3 linked regions of the Homo sapiens genome follow. The protein of the gene in region 2 interacts with the protein of the main gene of each other region in a pairwise test. Each region holds a gene or a part of one and is shown on either strand. Other genes may lie near its edges.

Region 1 (6,825 bases), on a different chromosome or scaffold from region 2:
GCACTCCTAGATAGGATGGCTGAGGAGGGTCTCTCTAATGAGGAGAGATTTGAACAGAGCAAAGAAGCAAGCCATAAGGCTATCTGAAGGGAGAATGTCCCACACAGAAAGATGGCACAAACATCCCAAGCTGTGAATGTACTTGGTGCATAGGAAGAACCGTGACAGCCCATGCAGCTTGGGCAGAGACAGAAAGGACGAGAGCAGCAGATGAAATCAGAGGGTTGGAGGCTGCATCATATAGGGGCCTCCTAAGCCACAGTAAGGGCTCTGGCTTTTTCGTTTTTGTGTTTGTTTGTTTATGTTTGAGATGGAGTCTCGCTCTGTCGCCCAGGCTGGAGCACAGTGGTGCGATCTCGGTTCACTGCAACCTCTGGGTTTGAGCAATTCTCCTGCCTCAGCCTCCAGAGTAGCTGGGATTACAGGCGTGCACCACCATGCCCAGCTAATTTTTGTATTTTTAGTGGAGACAGGGTTTCACCATGTTGGCCAGACTGGTCTCGAACTCCTGACCTCAGGTGATCTGCCCTCCTCGGCCTCCCAAAGTGCTGGGATTACAGGTGTGAGCCACTGCGCCCAGCCTGGCTTTTTCTTCTAGTGAGATGGGAGCTACTGGAAGGTTCTGAAAGAATGACATGATCTGCTTGAGTTTTAGAAGGACTACTCTGGCTGCAAAGTACAGACTGTAGAGGGATAAGGGAGGAAGCAGAAAGACCAGAAGGAAGGTAAAGGCTATAATTCAGAAAAAAGGTGACAGTGACCTTGAGCATGGTGAGAGTAGTGGTGGAGGTGGTCAGATGCTAGATGAATTTTGAAGACGAGGTTGACAGTATTTGCAAATTGAGGTGGATTTCTAGTACTTGCAAATGAAATAGATTTATCTTTAAACAGTGTATCTCTTCCTTAGATAACAGAGACAGCATAAGCTGTGATACCAGACTGGATGGGTTCAAATCCTGATTTTATCCCTTACTAACTGCGTGACCATTAGGCAAATTATTTTTCTGTGCCTCAGTCTCCTCATTAATAAAACAGGGGAATAAAGTAACTATTTCATAAAGTTGACATAAGGATTATCTGTACAGGATTTAGAACAGTGCCTGACATATAGTAAATGTTAGGTAAGGTGTTAATAAAACAAGTAAGTGGGCCAGGCCTGGTGGTTCATGCCTGTAATCCCAGCACTTTGGAAGGCCAAGATGGGTGGATCACAAGGTCAGAAGTTCGAGACCAGCCTGGCCAATATGGTGAAGCCCCGTCTCTACTAAAAATACAAAAATTAGTCGGGTGTGGTGACGGGCACCTGTAGTTCCAGCTACTCAGAAGGCTGAGGCAGGAGAATCGTCTGAACCCGGGAGGCAGAGGTTGCAGCAAGCCAAGATCGAGCCAAGGCACTCCAGCCTGGGCAACAGAGTGAGACTCCATCAAAAGAAACAAACAAACAAACAAACAAGTGTTCATCAATCCCTAGCCTAAGTCAGGCTCTGGGTTATGAGTCCTAATATCTCCTTGAACTTTTCCTCCAGCACTTTCATAGTTTGTAGGTATATATTTAAATGATCATTTAATAAATACATGTCCCCCTCACTAGACTGAGAGCTTCACAAGGAAACTATTTTGTTCACTCTTCTATCCCTGATAACTAGAACAATTGCCCGGTTCCTGGTCACAACCAGGAGATATTTACTGATTCAATGAGGGAATGATCTGATCACATTTCATCCTAATGATCTTTTTACATTTTTATCTACTCCACCAGTGGATAAACTTCTTCATCTTTTTGTCTCCAGTATCTTGTACGGTTCTAAGCACAAAGTAAGTGCTCAATAAATGTTTTCTGAACTAAAGCAGGAACTGTGTAAGCATTTTCTGTAATCACTGTACTAAATTTATGATACTCGTTACCAATCTGAAGGGTTATCTGGCAAAAAAAACAAAAACAAAAACAGCTGGTGTGGACAAACAGGAAACACCTGGATGTGGCCAACAGCCACCAAGATGTTTGAAATAATATCCTTCAATGTGTGAGGCAGTATAGGAATGAAAATACTTGCTGTGACTGTAGCAACAGTGATCATAAATATAAAGGTGGGCACCCAACTGGTATACCTTCAAATTGCAAGTCATCTACTGCTGCCATTCGGCCAGTGAGTCTTCTCCCAATTATGAGGAAGAAAATTTGCAGGGTTCTAAAAGAAAAAAATAGGTAAACATAATAGGATGACAGTATAAAGTATCTGCAAACAACTCTTATGTATTAGAAATGGTATCACTTTCCCTTGCCTCCCTTTTCAGTGGGGTTTAATAGGTTTATATAAAGATAACCACTAAGCATCAGGTATTATTAAATATTAAAACTGTAACAAAGAAACTAACCCCGGGGATCCAAAGGTTCCAATTCAACCTTATTTGGTTGTGTATGTACCAGGAATGAATCTCAACTCACTGTGTGAATGTTTAGAGAGCAGGTGCAGCCTAGAGATGTAACGATGAGGAAGGAGAGGCTGAGGTTTGAAAGAGGTGATGGGGACAGTGAAGAACAAAGGCAGTTCAGCCTAGCCAGTGGTTAAAGGCACAGGCTCTGGGGTCAGACAGAGCTGGGTTTGATTCCCGATTCTGCTGCTTCTCTGCTGTATGCGCGCTCCTCGCGGCCTCAGTTTCCTCATCTGTAAAATGGGTGCATAACGATACCTAGTCACACAGTGCGGGGGTCATTAAATGGGAGTGCGTGTAAGGAGCCTAGAGCGGAGTCAGGCAATTAGTAGGCAATGGGGTGTCGGCGACCCTGCAGCCCGGGACACCGCGAAGCAGAGGCAGTGTTTCAGGGAGAGGAGCTGGGCCGCGGCGGCCCGGGCGGGCAGGAGATCCTGAACCCCCTTAGCCTCGTACAGGTCCCGCAAACTCGGCAGCCTCACCTCGCGGGGTTAGGCGTCCCCCGGGTCCCGAGAAGGCTCGGGCCTCAGTTGCTCCGCGCCGGTTTCGGTCCAGCCCAGTTGCCGGAAGCCGGAGATCCGGGGGGCGGAACCTCTCCGCCTCCTCCGGGAAGAGCCCCGCCTCCTTAAAGAGACAGCAGCTCCCAGAGAAACCTGCGTGCTGCGGCGCGCAGAGCCCGCTCCCGCCCGCCCTTCTCCCGAGGCTGAGCCTCGAGTTCTTAAAGAGACAGGCGAGGGCGGAGTGGTGGGGTCGCTGAGTGTGACTACTTGGGCTGGCCTTGCTCCAGGGAACGTAGAAAATTCTCGAGTTTAGGGTTTTCTTACTGTGTGTTTATACCTCTTTTCCTAAGGAAATATAAAATCGGGTGATGAAAGACGATTGTGAAAGAAAAAATTAAGTCACCCGCGTCACCAGTCCCTCAGTTTCTTTTGGCCACAAAAATTTCACTGGTGAGAAAGTACATGATGAGTCAATTACATTCTGAATGAGTGATCGAAAGCGCGATGTCTGTTCGTATGAGCACCCCCAGTAAGTGAGCGCTTGGAAAGACTTTACATCTAATAATAGCCATATATAGTGTATTTTTTTCCCCAAGATGATCATGATCAGGCTTTGTACATGCAGGATCTCTAATTCTCAGAACAATCCTGCTATCTTGGGGTGATTATCCTCATTTTACAAAGAGAAAGCTGAGGCTTAGAGCATGTGCAGGGCACTTTTGGTTGAGTATGTACCAGGAATGAATCTCAGTTCATGAATTCAGCTGTGCTAGTATATCAGCCACCTCTTATGTCCCATTTCAGATCATCTTGGCCTCACCTGCTGCTTATTTCACCGCCACTCATCTTATTCCAGCGTCAGCAGATATAACCTGAGTGAGCTTGCCTCCAGTCTATGCCTCAGGCTTCTCACTTTCTGCTTCGAGGCTTGTTTCTTCATGCGATGGGGCCATGGGACCTTGCTGGAGCCAATCAGCACCCAGACAGGTGCATCCCAGAAGTGTAGGGGTAGAGAGTTGTTAATGTCTCATGAGGCAAATCTCTGACCAATGGGGTCAACACTTGATGAATATATGCTTTTCCTGTTTTTCCCCCTCAGGCGCCCTTTCATATAGCTTTCAAACTACCTAGCAGGATTAAGCAACCAAATGCCTTTGGAAGTGACGCATTTGACAATGCATCTTCGCAATGGGTCTCCTTCCTTCCCTGATATACAAGCCCTGTACTTCACTCCTGGTGCTTGGATTCATACTTGCCAATAAACTACTCATATGAGGAAGCAATATGAAGGCATGTTGGTACCAAAAGTGGCCCCAGAAAATAAAACCTTAGGTTGGCATTTTCTAACTGAACTGCGCACCAGTCACATGGCAACAACAAATATATTGCTGGTGTTAAGGGGAGAGAGAAGGAGGGGGGTGGTGGTGGTGTGATAACACTTAGAATAGAATGGCATCACAATTACTAAGGTGTCTGTCTGCAGTTGATTGGGATAACGTGCAGGTAGAAGATAAGGTGCTGAGTTATCTAGTGGCTGTGGCACAGGAACATTAAGAGGACAATGGTAATTATAAGGACTATGGAATGGACTGGGTGTTCTTAACTCCATTGGAAACCTTGAAAATAAAATGACAGACTTAGAACAGCCAACTGTCAACTTGAGGCACTTTGTGAAAGCTAGAGAGCCTCTATGGCAGCTTTGAAGATTCTTATTCTTCTATAGCCTTGAGAAAGACTGGACTGAAAATCAGGCCCAAGATCTAATTGTAAGGGTGGCAAAGTTTCAACGAAGACTGAATGCACAGCCTCTGTAGGTCTCCTCCATCAAAGCTGGGGCATTGTCAGAAAATGAATGGGAACCTGAGAACTGGGATGAGGATATTTGGGTAGGAAAGCCTGAGACTTGACCATCCCTCGTTTCCAGTTTCCCTTGAATCTTTCAAGGGAAAGGTGGCTGTGGCAGAAGTAGTCCTTTCCCCCTTGTTAAAGGAAAGCAAAGTCCTCTTGCTTACGGATCCTGCAATGATTACCTGCACAACATTGCTTTGGACTAAGGGACCAATTTAATTGTAAAGAACATGCAACAGTGACACATAACCATGGGTCTTACCCACTGGTCTTACCATGTGACTCAGTCATCCAATAGTAGGTGGCCTAATAGGATGGTGGAATGGCTTGTTAAAGGCACAGTTAGGGCTCCAGGTTGGGGAAAATACTCAGGAGACTGGGGCATTGTCCTCCGGCATGTAGTACATGTACTAAACCAATGGTTTATCAATTATTTATAATGGTACTTTGTTCTAAATACCTATAGATTTGCAAACCAAGGGGTAGCACTTCTTACTATCACTTTCAGTGAAACCTACACACATAGAATGTGTGCCTCCTGCGTCACAAGTTTAAGTTCTGCTTGGTTGGAGATCCTGGTCCCAGGGAAGCAGGGAAGGCGGAGAGAGAACACTTCCATTCCAGTTACAGTTCCACTGAATTGGAAGCTGTAACTACCACTTAGGCATTTTTGGCTTCTCATACCACTGCACCAGCAGGTAAAGAAAAGAGTGCCGGCTGGGCGCGGTGTCTCACGCCTGTAATCCCAGCACTTTCGGAGGCCAAGGTGGGCGGATCACCTGAGGTCAGGAATTCGAGACCAACCTGGCCAACATGGCGAAACCCATCTCTACTGAAAACACAAAAATTAGCTGGGCATGGTGGCACACGCCTGTAATCCCAGCTACTTGGGAGGCTGAGGCAGGAGAATTGCTTGAACCTGGGAGGCGGAGGTTGCAGTGAGCCGAGATTGTGCCACTACACTCCAGCCTGGACAACAGAGCGAGGCTCTGTCTCAAAAATAAATAAATAAAGAGTGACACATGGTGGGGAAAATCAGCCCTGATTACTTTAAGAAGTTGGGGGCTGGGCATGGTGGCTCATTCCCATAATCCCAGCATTTTGAGAGATCAAGGAAGGAGGATTGTTTGAGGTCAAGAGTTCAAGACCAGCCTGGGCAACATAAGGAGAAGCTATAACAGTCACAAAATTTGCCGGGTTTGGGTGGCACTCCTGTAGTCCTAACTACTCTGGCTGAGGTGAGAGGATGGCTTGAGCCAGGAGTTTGAGGCTGCAGTGAGCTATGATCACACCACTGCCCTCCAGCCTGGTGACAGAGGAAGGAAACCCCGTCTCAATTATTTAAAAAAAAAAAGGTCTTGGGTGTATTTTAAAACACTTCCCAACTCTGAGCTCTATGATTCTTCTTTCAGTTTCTCCAATGAGCCATGCTGTCTCTGGCTTCTGGGCCTTTGGCCATGTGGTTCCTTCCACCAGGACACTATCCCCACTTTAGCCAGCTGACTGCTTGCCGTCTTTCTGGTTTCAGCATAGAAATCACTTCCTCAGTGAAGTCCTCTTGACTTCTCTAACCAGAATTAGCTTCCCCTTCTCCCTGCTCTCGTAGCCCACGCACACCCTCCGCCTCTGGACTTCATTTAGGAAATGGTAGTTTTTTGTTTACTTGTCTATTCCCCGCACTAGACCATGACTTCCTTGAGAGAAGAGGGTGTTTTATTTGTCACTCTATGCCCAGTGCTAAGGGGAGTTGCAGGCCCCAGGTTTTGTTAGAAATGGTCCCATTTCTGTCTCTGCCCTGGGAGGTTTGAGATCCATATCCCCTGGGGAGGGCTCTGACTACAGAAATAGTCAACCACCAGCTAGAAGCCATGATTGGGGGCCGGGTGCGGTGGCTCGAGCCTGTAATCCCAGCACTTTTGGAGGCCAAGGCGGGTAGGTCATCTGAGGTCAGGAGTTCAAGACCAGCCTGACCAACACGGTGAAACCCTGTCTCTACTAAAAATACAAAAATTAGCCAGGCGTGGTGGCAGGCGCCTGTAATCCC
Region 2 (6,553 bases):
CCACGGTACCCTGCCAATTTTAACTTTCTATAAGAGATTTGCCCAGCCTGGGCAACATGGAGAAACCCTGTCTTTACCAAAAATACAAAAAATTTAGCTGGGCATGGTGGCGTGTGCCTGTAGTCCCAGGTACTTGGGAGGCTGAGGTGGAAGGATGGTTTCAGCCTGGGACGCAGAGGTTGCAGTGAGCCGAGATCATGTCATTGCACTCCAGCCTGGGTAATAGAGCCAGATCCTGTCTCAAAAAAAAAAAAAAAAAAAGCTTTGTATCCATTTTGGCATACATAGACTAGTATGTATGGCAGTAAATAGACTAGTGGCAGTAAATAGACTAGTACCTACATATATTTTTTGTATTCGTGGCATACTTAACTTTTGCTTAATTTTAAAAATATATTTCTAGGCTTGTAGTTCCTCTGTAAGTTTTTTCAAATTGTTGCAAATCTCTGAAAATGTTTCCAATGTATTTATTGAAAAAAATCCACAAGTAAGTGGACCTGCACAGTTCAAACCTGTGCTATTCAAAGGTCAACTATATAGTCTGTAATACGTGATGGGTGTCACGCTGAGTGTCTACAGTGAGTGTTGTCTCACTTCAGCTTCACACAACGCTGTGGTTTAGCCTTGCCACTGCCGTACGGATGAGCGGGTGTTCACTACACGAAGGTACTGGGCAGAGGAGCAAACACTGACTAAATTCTAGCCTGTGCTTTGCTCAACAAGCCACATGCCTGCCTTGCTTGCATCAAGGGAAGGAGTATTGTGTTCTAATTTGAAGAAATACACCAGCCACTCCTTAGGCAGCACTTGGTGCGGGATGGGCTCCTCTGGAAAGGGAGCACCTAATTTGCACAAAGGTGCTGCACCAGGTAGCTACGATCCTGGAATGGGATGAAGAAACTTGCCTAAGGCCCTACAGCAAGGAAGGGGTAAAAGCAGGATGTGATCCTTCCAAGCAGAACCCCCAAGAGCCAGGGGACATTTGGGAAACCTGGGGGTGTGGGGGTTAACCCTGTATTTGTGGTCCATTTCGCAAAGGATAGCATCCCACATCCATGAGAGGGAGGTCAGAAGGGAGTGGCTGTGGCTGTGAAGGAGACAGACACCTGGGCACCTGCTCTAAATTACAGCAATGCCATGCACATGATGATGTATTGGAGCACAACAAATGGCAGCCACCAGCTGGGGTGCACGCACCAATTTCTACAAATGAGCTCTGTTCAGGCTGAAATGTCTACGCATGCAAGGATTTTTCTTGTAATTGATGATATATCCCCAGCGCCCAGAAGACAGAGTGGCACGCAGTAGGTGCTCAGTAAATGTTCGCTCAATGAATGAATGAATGCCTCTACTAGCCTTCCAAAGAAAGTTCTATGTCTGTTTTATCAATATGGAAACAGGCCAGAGAAATTAAGTAACTTCTTTTGGAAGCCAGAAACAAGCCCGGCACTTGTGCAGTGACAACACCAGGGAATTTCAGTAAAAACCCAAACTCCACCCCAGGGAGCCCCAGTGCCTCCTCCCGCATCACAGGGTGCCAGGGCCCACTCTCTTTGACTCCTGCTCCATAGCCCCTGCTGGGTACTGGGCTGCTTCTCCCAGTTCCTCCTGCCTCCCCCCACTTAGGGCAAATCCAGTGCCTCCCTGGGGCCCAGGAGACTCAGTGTGATCCACCCCAGGCGCCTCTCACTCCTGTGAGACCCAAACCTCCTATCAGCTCCCCCAGCAGGCCAAGTCTGTGCACCCGTGACTCCCCTGCCCCAATGTTCCCTCCAGTGGCTCTTTGCCTCTTCAGTATCCACGTCTTCATGATCCTTCCCCTACTCCATCCCCCAAGCCCTCACCACCAAATGTAATGTAAACAGCATGACAGCAAAAACTTTTTGTTCACAACTGCGTGTTGTTTTTTTTTTTTTTTTTTTTTTTTAGACACAGTCTCACTCTGTTGCTCAGGATGGAGTGCAGTGACACAGTCATGGCTCACTGCAGCCTTGAATTCCTGGGCTCAAGCGATTCTTCCATTTCAGCTTCCCAAGTAGCTGGGACCAGAGGCACATGCCACTAAACCCAGCTAATTTCTTTTTTCTTTCTCTCTTTTTTTTTTTTTTTTCCCCTGTGGACATAGGGTCTCCTCATGTTGCCCAGGCTAGTCTCAAACAACCTGTGCTCAAGCAATCCTCCCACCTCAGCCTGCCAAAGTGCTAAAATTACGGACCTGAGCCACCGTACCCAGCCTACTGCTGCACTTTTAACAGCTTAATTGAGATATTATGTACATATCATCAAATTCACCAATGTTAAGTGTACAATTCAATGATTTTTAGTAAATTTACTGAGGTGTGAGTCCATTACCATCAGCTAGTTTTAGAACATTTTCATGACCCTAGTAAAGGATTTTACTTCATGTTCATTTAAACTTAATCTTGGGCCAGGCGGGGTGGCTCACGCCTATAATCTCAGCATTTTGGGAGGCTGGGGTGGACGGATCACCTGAGGTCAGTAGTTCGAGACCAGCCTGGCCAACATGGCGAAACCTCATCTCTACTAAACATACAAAAATTAGCCAGGCGTGGTGGCGGGCACCTGTAATCCTAGCTACTTAGGAAGCTGAGGCATGAGAATTTCTTGAACCCGGGAGGCAGAGTTTGCAGTGAGCCAAGATTGCACCATTGCACTCCAGCCTGGGCGACAACAAGACCCTGTCTCAAAAAAAAAAAAAAAAAAAAAAAAACAACTTAATCTTCATTTCTACCTCCATCCCCCAGACAACCACGAGTCTACTTTCTGACTCTATAACTTTGCCTATTCTGGACATATCATATAAATAAATGAAATCTGACAATATATGTACATGGTCTTTTACGTCTGGCTTGTTTCACTCAACATAAGGCTGTAGTGTGTATGGGTAGCTCATTCCTTTTCTTTGCCAAATAGAATTCCAGTATATGGATGTGCCACTTTTTTATTCACTCACCAGCTGATGGGCTGCCAGGTAACATTTCCACTGTTGGTGACTATGACCAACACTGCTGTGAACATTTAGGACTGAGTCTTTAAGTAGACCTGAGTTTCCACTTCTCTTAAGTAAATACCTACGGTGGAATTGTTGGATCGCATGGTGAATTTATGTTTAACTTTTTAAGCAACTGCCACCTGCTTTCCAAAGCAGGGACACCACCTCCCATTATTCTCACCAGCAGTGAATGAGGCCCCTATCTCTCTACATTCTCGCCGACCATAGGCATTGTCTGACTTTTTGCTTGTGGCCATTCTAGTGGATGTGAAATCATATCTCATTGTGCCCTGTGATTGTTTGAATGAACTAATAGATCACCTGTGAAACTGGACAGCACTTGGGTTTGAACCCTAGTGGTGACATTTCACAAGCTGTATCACCTGGAGCAAGTCACTTCCCTACGGTGAAGGACAAGGATTTTATGACATAAAAGCGTTGCCCTAGAAGCAGTGTCTGCTATGGATTATGTGCCCATGAAAAGGCAGCTGCTGTCATCATCGCCACCACCATTATTATTGTTATTATTATTACATTGTCACCCCAGAGATAATCCTGCACCAGTGACAGGGAAAATAGCAGCTGGCATCCGCTGCCTGCTCACGACCACACGCCAGGCTTCCGTCAAACCACTCAACATGTATTAGTAATCTTTTAATCGACCTACATATTGTTTTAATTTGCATGTGTTAATGCGTTGATCTATGAGATGGGTATTATGATGAGCTCTGTTCTGCAGGGGAGAAAGCAGAAACATGGAGAATTTAAGTCATTTCCCCCAAATCACAAAGTCAGGAAGAAACAGACCTCACGGAGCTCGCTCTCTGTCATTGCATCACACTTCCTGCCCTTACAAGGCAAATTGGATAAATGCCATTCTAGAGAAGCAGACAAAATTCAAGTGAAGAAGGGGAGAGGAAGACGTCGGCTGGGGCCTGCTTAGAGCATCCCAGCTGAGACTGCATGAGGAGGGAGGCACGCAGTTGTGGAATTTGTTCCCCTTTTAGCATGCTGACCAGCCCTGGCAACGGAGCTCAAGGCATCTATGTGCCACTGCTCAACAGTGAGTGACGTCATGGGCACGGCCAGGTCTTTATCAGTTCTGCCGGATAAATAGCCAACTGCACTAGGTCTGGAGAGACAGCAAGGTGCTGTGCGGCAGAGCATTTGGGGTCTCAAAGAAGCAGGTGAGCCTGGGCCCGAGGGGCTGGGTGGAGGAGCACCTTGGTGCTTCTCTGCTGGGGAAGGGACAGGGGACAGGGCATGCTCAGGAAGACAGGCAGGCTGACCCCGCCTGGAAGGCACCCAGAGACAAGAGGGGTGGGCGTAGTGACCTCGTGCCCTTTTAGGGGAGATGCTGCTGGCCAGAGGCCGTTAGGGCCCCCACTACCAACTCCATGTTACTCTCTCTCACCAGTGGCCACCACCATGGATACAGGCCCCGACCAGTCCTACTTCTCCGGCAATCACTGGTTCGTCTTCTCGGTGTACCTTCTCACTTTCCTGGTGGGGCTCCCCCTCAACCTGCTGGCCCTGGTGGTCTTCGTGGGCAAGCTGCAGCGCCGCCCGGTGGCCGTGGACGTGCTCCTGCTCAACCTGACCGCCTCGGACCTGCTCCTGCTGCTGTTCCTGCCTTTCCGCATGGTGGAGGCAGCCAATGGCATGCACTGGCCCCTGCCCTTCATCCTCTGCCCACTCTCTGGATTCATCTTCTTCACCACCATCTATCTCACCGCCCTCTTCCTGGCAGCTGTGAGCATTGAACGCTTCCTGAGTGTGGCCCACCCACTGTGGTACAAGACCCGGCCGAGGCTGGGGCAGGCAGGTCTGGTGAGTGTGGCCTGCTGGCTGTTGGCCTCTGCTCACTGCAGCGTGGTCTACGTCATAGAATTCTCAGGGGACATCTCCCACAGCCAGGGCACCAATGGGACCTGCTACCTGGAGTTCCGGAAGGACCAGCTAGCCATCCTCCTGCCCGTGCGGCTGGAGATGGCTGTGGTCCTCTTTGTGGTCCCGCTGATCATCACCAGCTACTGCTACAGCCGCCTGGTGTGGATCCTCGGCAGAGGGGGCAGCCACCGCCGGCAGAGGAGGGTGGCGGGGCTGTTGGCGGCCACGCTGCTCAACTTCCTTGTCTGCTTTGGGCCCTACAACGTGTCCCATGTCGTGGGCTATATCTGCGGTGAAAGCCCGGCGTGGAGGATCTACGTGACGCTTCTCAGCACCCTGAACTCCTGTGTCGACCCCTTTGTCTACTACTTCTCCTCCTCCGGGTTCCAAGCCGACTTTCATGAGCTGCTGAGGAGGTTGTGTGGGCTCTGGGGCCAGTGGCAGCAGGAGAGCAGCATGGAGCTGAAGGAGCAGAAGGGAGGGGAGGAGCAGAGAGCGGACCGACCAGCTGAAAGAAAGACCAGTGAACACTCACAGGGCTGTGGAACTGGTGGCCAGGTGGCCTGTGCTGAAAGCTAGGTCCTCCGGGGGAGGAGGGTGTAGCTGGCATGTCATCCTCAGGGCGCTTCCTCGCTCACGCCAGGAGGGACTTGGAGTGGCGAGCTGGGGCCCGATGGGGCTTGGGGGCAGAGTAGACATCTAGCCTCCCTAAGGGTATGCGCGCTAAAGCCCAGCTCTCGATCTCACCTCCATCCCCATCCACCCACACACTATGGATTGGGCTCTGGGAAGGGGTCAGGGTGAGAGGCTGCTCTGGAGAACAATGAGGTCCTCATAGCAGCAGGCAGCTCCTGTGTTTTCTTGAGGGTGGCAGAGGAGCTAAGAGCAGTGCCCAGGGTCTGAGGGGGCTGCCCAGTGAGTGGCAGGGGCAGGAGAGGGGAGAACCCCATCCTCAGAGCTGCTCCCAGCCAGCGAGTCAGGAGCGGGGGAGACAGGGCTCCAGGGATGAGGCCGCATTCTGCTCCCACAGCGCCTTTTCCAGAAAGTTCCCATTGCTCAATAAATGTGGATCATCAGAGACATTTATGAACAATGACAGAAGAAAAATTACCCAAATAAATGTGGAAGCAAGCAAAAGAGAACAGTGTTTCCTTCTTCTCCTGTTTTGTTCTGGTGGTGTGCTTGGGCCGGGTGGGACTGGTGGATGGAAGGAGAAAACACCAGACTCTGGAGGAAAAGGGCCAAACACCAGGATGCCTGGATGCTGGGAGAGGATCTGGCTTGCAGGGATGAAAATAACAGCTGCCCTGTCTAAAGGACTTGGCCTGACACATCATCTCCTTCTATCTCTCAATAGCCCTGTGAGAGGTACCAGCATTATCCCCAGTTTCAGATGAAGGAGTGGCCCAGAGAGGTGACACCTCCTACCTGAGATCCCATAGCTGGTGGGCGATTGAAGTGGGACCAGAAGCTGGTGTCAGTTGACTCTGACACCCATGCCCCTAAGCCACTCTGCTGTTCTCCATCTGTGTGTCACCTGTGGTCACCTGGCCCAGTCAAATGTCCCAAGTCAGATAAGTCTGTCTGAGCAGGACAAATATAAACAGGCCATGATAAGAAACAGAACTAAATGCAAAGCGTATTGACTAT
Region 3 (7,000 bases), on a different chromosome or scaffold from region 2:
GCCAACCTCCTAAATTTTTGTTAATACAGTGACTTGTTTTATAGAAATGATTTATAGTTGCTATGAATGGTCAAGCAATGCAGAGTAGAAATTAAATAAAAATGTCCCCCCAAAATCTTCCTTCTCTCTCAATGCATGGGTGCATTGTGTATTTGTATACACATGGGTGGATGAATAGACAAAAATATATTCTTAGGAATGGCAGCATCTTAAACATATTTTTAAGCAAAGCATTGAATTTAATGTTTCTTGAATTTAACAAAAAAAAAAGTAATTCTTAAATGTTAACATTTGTCAGGAGAGTTTCTTAAAAAGATTCTTCTAAGGAGGTGTTTCCATAGCAGTGATTTTCAACTGGACACAGTTTTGCTCCCCAGTGGGCATTTGGCAATATCTGCAGACATTTTTCATTGTCACAACCTGGGGTGAGGCGTGCCACTAGCATCTAGTTAGTTGGTAGAGGACAAGGATGCTGCTAAATCTACAATGTATAGGATAGCCCCCAACAACAAATAATTATTCAGCCCAAAATAGCAATAACAACATGGTTAAGAAAGTCTGGTTTAAGTTTAAGAAAAACATTGTATAAGACATTGAAGTTGGAGTAACTTTTTAAGGACATTTTAATTTTAGATTCACTTCTCTGAAAGGTGGAACAAATCAATATTCACCCATTCCCCTAGTTCCCAGGTTTAATTAATTGTATCATTTTTAAATTTTTTAATTCATAATTCTGTATGTACATACTTCTCTATGCGCTTAAGAAAAATAGTATACCACTCCCATTTCCTCCCTTTGGAGACAGTATTTCTTTTGGTATTTATTGCCGTATTTCTAATTAACATACATATAGTGTATTCTTGATTTTGTTTATTTGTTTTAGACATTGTCTTCTAACTATGGAAGACGAAGATTTAGCAGTCATCCCTTGATTTCAACTGGCCCTCATCCCTACCCCCACCAAAATCACACACACACATTGATGTCCCCATAGCTTTCCATAATACTAAATAATTTTGGTAAATGAACATTATTGTGACTATTTAAATAAGTTTATATATGTAAAGCTGTAGCAAGCACTTACATGTTAGTTCTTTATTTGTGTAATGCTCTTCATAGGTCAGCCTTGTACTAAATATGCAATGACTTTTCCTTTCATGCACAACATTTTTTGTTCATTGGTTTGCTTTCTTTTCTTTTTTTGACAGAATCTCACTGCATTGCCCAGGCTGGAGTGCAGTGGCGCGATCTCAGCTCACTGCGACTTTGAACCTTCCGGGTTCAAGTGATTCGCTTGCCTCAGCCTCCTGAGTAGCTGGGATTACAGGCATGTGCCACCACACCCAGCTAATTTTTATATTTTTAGTAGAGATGGTGTTTTGTCATGTTGGCCAGGCTGGTCTCAGAACTCCTAGCCTCAAGTGATCCACCTGCCTTGGCCTCCCGAAGTGCTGGGATTATAGGTGTGAGCCACCGCACCCAGCCTATTTTCAGTGTATTTAAATTATTTAACCTCAGACTTTTCCCCAGCTGTATGCATCTCTAAGTTCAGATACATGTCATGATTGATCGAACCTTGGAGGTTATCTCTCCCAGAATCTTCTGACCTGCTCTAGTCTATAGTCAACTGTTTTCATCCTGGATCTCACTTTATCCTCTAATGAGGATGTACATTTCCTCTCTCTTAGGTTGAAACCCTTTTTTTCTTCATTGCTTGTATTCATTTGGTTGACGACCATGTTTTGGTATAATGCTCCTTGACAGAACCACATAGGAGGTACACTTTGGTCATAGAAGTCTAGATTGGAAGTCATTTTCCCTCAGAATTTTGATGCTCCTTTGTAGACTTGTAGTCTTGCTGCTGGGTATTCTGAAGTCATTTTAGAAACTTTTTCTGTATGACCTTTCCATCCTTCACTTCTCCACCAGTTAATTACATTTCTTGAATTCTTTAATTTTCTCACCTGTATTTTCTACATTGTCTTTCTGTTATTCACATATTATGCTTCCTGGACTGAAACTCTAGGTTTCTTCCTTTCTGCTTTCCATCTCATTGGCTTTTTGCACGGCTTTCTGAGAAATTTCCTTGATTGTTTTCAGAACTTCCGTTGAATTTTATTTTTTAAATTTTTTTATTGACTGATTGGACTTCTGTTGAATTTTTAAACCTCTGCTATAGGGGCAGTGTGCTCACACCTATAATCTTAGCACTTTGGGAGGCCAAGGTAGGCAGATCACTTGAGCTCAGGCCTTGGCAACATGGCAAAACACTGTCTATACAAAAAATACAAAAAAATTAGCCAGGCGTGGTGGTGCGTGCTTATGGTCCCAGCTACACCCAGCGTATCTGTGATCTCAGCTTCTGTAGAGGCTGAGGTGGGGGGATCACCTAAACCCAGGGAGGTTGTGGCTTCAGTGAGCTGTAATCATGCCACTGCACTCTAGTAAAGCCTACATTCCAGCCTGGACGACAGAGTGAGACTCTGTCTCAAAAAACAAACAACAACAAAAACCTCTGCTGTAACATTTTTAATTACCAAGAGTCTGTTTTGTTCTCTGTTTCACCTAGTCTTGCTTTGTTGCCCGGGATGGAGCGTAGTGGCGTGATCTCGGCTCACTGAAACTTCCGCCTCCCAAGTTCGAGCAATTCCGCCTCCCAAGTTCAAATGCCTCAGCCTTCTGAGTAGCTGGGACTATAGGTGCACAACACCATCCCTGGGTAATTTTTGTATTTTTAGTAGAGACTGTTTCACCATGTTGGCCAGGCTGGTCTTGAACTCCTGACCTCAAGTGATCTGCCAGCCTCAGCCTCCCAAAGTGCTGGGATTACAGGTGTGAGCCACCGTTCCTGGCCTCTGTTCCATTTTTATAGCATCCTGTGGTTGTTTCATGGAAGCAAGCTTTCTCCCTTTTTAAAAAAATCTTTATTTTTATCTTTATGATATACCCTGTACTATATAGTTTATTAATATACTCTGTAAGTATATTAAAAATACCAAATTTTTTATGCTTTTATGTCTGCCTATAATTTCTTTTCAAGTTTCTCCTATCCACTCCTCCCACTTTCATTGATCTTAGTGTTTTCCGGAGTATTCAGTGGTCAGTAGCTATTTGTTCATATTTAGGAGTGGGACACTCAAGAGCTTGGTGTAGGACTTGTCAGCTGTGACTACCGTGAAGTGATCTGGCTCAACCAGTTTATTGTGGAAGCCTAATGCAGATATTTATCTAGGGCTATTGATAGATCCAGGGTACACTTCCAGTCTCCAACCTGGGGAATATACCTGCATTCTGGAAGGCAAGTGACGGAAAGAATGATGAGGTTCTTCACATTCAGTACATAAAATTTGACTTAATTTTATGTTTTTAGTATGGAACCCCTTCTGTCAACTCTACTTGGTGTTTCCCTGTCAAACCTCATGTTTTATTCTTTCAGGTGACTAGTGCAAGAAATGGAATGAAATCTGGGAGTCTTAACTGCTCTTTGGAAAGACATTCAACCAATCATCTATTTTTACTATACCTTTAGTGTCACTTACAGAGACTCCTGGTGCCACCAGTTCCTGAACTATTTGGGGATTCTGCCAAATGAATTGTGTTGCTCGTTAACTTTTTCCTTTGATAACTTAGAATTCAGCTTTCTCTGTTAAGGTTGTTACTACTTCGTAGTTTCTACTTCCTAGATTTGTTCTGGGAAGAACAAAACAAAAGAACTAGAACAAAAGATCTAGTTCTTTTTGACTTTTACATTTTATTCTTTCTTTTTTAAAGAAAAAAAACCCCAAACCTTTATTTTTTATTTTATTGGGATTTCTAGAGTGAACATAGGTAAATTAATATATTCAGTCTGCCATCTTTAACTAGAAGCACTTTGTACTATTATTTTTATGTTGCCATTATCTTATACCCTAGAAACATTGACTGGGGGCATTCTATGTTTTAATAAGCCCTCCAGGTAATTCTGGTAGTTGTTACAGTTTGAGAACCAGTGCTCTAAACTTAAGTGGATGCAAAGCTCTCTACCAGTCCTTGGCTTACCATTGCTTTGCTCTAATTTTTTATTTTAATGTCATCTCCTAATTGACCACATTTTGTCATCAGTAGATTTTTCAAAAAGGATTTATTGGTGCCGGAATCTCTAAGTTCTTTGGTTTTTGAAAGTGCCTGCTAAATTCTTGAGAGACATTTTGGACTGGTATAATATAGTATACGAATTTCCTTCAGAACTTTGTAGTTATTTCTCTTTCGTATTCTGTCTTATATCAGCCTGGTTTCCACACCGTCCCTCTGCACGTGCATAGGTGGTTTGTTTCCTCTGCCTGAGTAGCTGAAGAGTTTTTGTTTATCTTAGAAATTAAATAACCAGATAAGTCTGAGTTTAAATCTTTTATCACTTTTTTTCCCCTTCTCAAAAAGTAGTGTGCTCTTTTGATGCACAGATTATTTTTCCATCTAAGGAATTTTTCTTATATTAGATCTGTGAATATCCTTTAATTCATTTATTTAGAGGATTCTCTATTTTAAGGACTTTTTTTAGTTAAGGTATAATTTACATACAGTAGAATTTACTCTTTGTAATATACAGTTCCATGAGTTTTGACAAATGCATCTCTAGTCGTGTAACCGTTTTGGAACATCGATCATCCTAAAAAATTGCACTGTCCTGTCCTTGGCAACCCCTATTTTCTGTCTTTAGGATTTTGCCTTTCTAGAGTGTCATATTAATGGAATCCTACAATATATAGTCTTTGAGTCTGGCTTCTTTTACTTAGCACATAATGAGTTTCATTCTCCGTATGTTTTTATTGTTGAATATTGTTTTTGTTTGGATGTACCACAATTTATCCATTCACCATTTGAGGAGCCTTTCTAGGTTTTGATGATTACAAATAAAGTAGCTATAAGCATTCCCATCAAGGTTTTTTTGTGTAATTATAAGTTCTTATTTCACTTGAATAAATATCTGAGTGTGGATTTGCTTATTCATACAGTAAGTGCATGTTTGATTTAAAAATAAGAAACAGTCAAACTGGTTTCCAAAATGGTTGTACCATTTTTCATTCCCGCCACCAAAGTAAGAGAGTTCTAGTTGCTCTGCATTCTTGTCAGTAGTTGGTATCATCAGTTTATTTCATTTTAGCCGTTCTAATATGCATGCAGTAGTATCTCTGATTTTAATGTACATTTCCCTAATAATGATATTGAGCACTTTTTCTTTGCTTATTTGCTGTCTATATGCCTTTTATTAAAGTATCTGTTTAAATATTTTGCCCATTTTTAATTGAGTTGTTTGTTTTCTTATCACTGAGTTTTTAGAGTTCTTTTTATATTCTGGATGCCGATGATTTATCATGTACCTCACTTGCAAGTATTTTCAAGTTTATGGCTTGCTTTTTCATTCTCAGCAGTGTGTTTCAAAGAGCAAAAGTTCTTAATTTTGATGAAGCCCAATTCATTTGTTTTTCTTTTGTGAGTCCTGTTTTTTATATGGTATCTAGGAAATCTTAATTCTCATATATGGTTTGATTATGGCTTAAGGTTAACTTTCTAAAAAATGTATGAATATCCAATTATTTCAGCAACATCTGTTAAAAAGATTATCCTTTCCATAGTGAATTGCTTTGGTATCTTTGTCAAAAATCCTTTGATTATATTTGCATGAATCTATTTCTGAACTTTATTGTGTTCTACTTAGTGTGTCCACCCTTTTCCCTATATCACTCTGTTTTAATTACTGTCACTTTAATGCTAGTCTTGAAATCAGGTAGTGTGTCTTTTAACTTTGTTCTTTTTTCAGACTTGTTTGAGCTATTCTGGTGTTTTTTGCCTGTTCAGCTAGTTTATTTCTGTAAATCTGATGTTGGGATTGTGATTGGAATTGGGCTGAATCTATAGATAAGTTTGGAAAGACCTGATATCTTGAAAATAATTGTCTTCCAACTATGAACTCTGTATATTTTGCCATTCATTTAGGTCTTTGATTTCTTTCACCAATGTTTTGTAGTTTTCATTATTTGAGATCTTGTCTATGTTTTGTTAGATTTATAACTATTTTCTTTTTGTTTTCAGTTATTACTAATACGTAGAAACATGATTGTGTATATTGACTTTTTATCATGTGACCTTATTAAACCGATGAGTTAGTTCTAGTTGCATTTTTGTAGGTTCTTTGTGGGGTATTTTTATTGTTTTTATTTGTTTTGTTTTGTTGTCATCCAGACTCGAGTGCAGTGGCGCTATCATTGAACTCCTTGAACTCCTAGGCTCAAATGGTCCTCCTGCCTCAGCTTCCCAAATTGCTGGGATTACAGGTGTGAGCCATGGTGTATGGCCCTCTTTGGGATTTTCTATATAGACAGTTGTGTTATATGTGAAGAGGGCAGTTTCGTGTCTTCCATTCCAATTTTTATGTTTTATTTTCTTTCTTGCCTCATTATATTGGCTGGGACCTCCAGTGTGAAGTTGAATTCAAATGGTGAGAGAGGTATTTTGCCTTGTTTGATGTCTTACAGGGAAAGCATTCAGACTTTCGTCATTAATTATGGGTGAGAGCTATAGGTATTTGTAAATGCCATTTATCAAGTTAAGGATGTTATCTTCTATTCTTTGCTGACAGTTTATATCATGAATAGGTATTGAATTTTGTCAAATGGTTTTTCTGTATCTATTGAGATGACCTTGTTTTTTTTCTTTAGTCTGTTTATACAGTAGAGGTCATTGGTTGATTTTTAAAAGTGGAACCAGCCTTGCTTTTCCAGGCTAAACTCTACCTGGTGGCAATATATTATCCTTTTTATATACTTTCATATTGCTGTTTTTGACTTGCTAAAATATCATTAAGAATTTTTTTGTGTATGTTTATGAGGGATATCGGTCTATTATTTTCTTATGATGTCTTTGGATTTAGTCTCTGTAATTCTGGCCCATTTTTTTAAATAAGAAGAATATGTCTCTTTCATATTCCTTTGTATGCAAATCCAAATTTCTCTCTGGTATAATT

Evidence for each region.
Region 1: the proteins of FFAR3 (region 2) and YIPF1 interact in binary tests that used the Homo sapiens proteins (3 or more experiments, as listed by UniProt).
Region 3: the proteins of FFAR3 (region 2) and SERINC1 interact in binary tests that used the Homo sapiens proteins (3 or more experiments, as listed by UniProt).

What each region holds. Positions count from the first base shown.
Region 1 is NC_000001.11:53,886,798-53,893,622, forward strand, and holds the start of YIPF1 (protein YIPF1), read right to left. Parts: upstream 3,001-6,825; 5' UTR 2,916-3,000; intron 2,667-2,915; 5' UTR 2,447-2,666; intron 2,190-2,446; 5' UTR 2,141-2,189; coding exon 2,110-2,140; intron 1-2,109.
Region 2 is NC_000019.10:35,354,450-35,361,002, forward strand, and holds FFAR3 (free fatty acid receptor 3), read left to right. Parts: upstream 1-4,076; 5' UTR 4,077-4,200; intron 4,201-4,430; coding exon of another isoform or gene 4,431-4,441; coding exon 4,442-5,482; 3' UTR 5,483-6,040; downstream 6,041-6,553. UniProt on the Homo sapiens protein: G protein-coupled receptor that is activated by a major product of dietary fiber digestion, the short chain fatty acids (SCFAs), and that plays a role in the regulation of whole-body energy homeostasis and in intestinal immunity.
Region 3 is NC_000006.12:122,461,808-122,468,807, reverse strand, and holds part of SERINC1 (serine incorporator 1), read left to right. Parts: intron 1-7,000.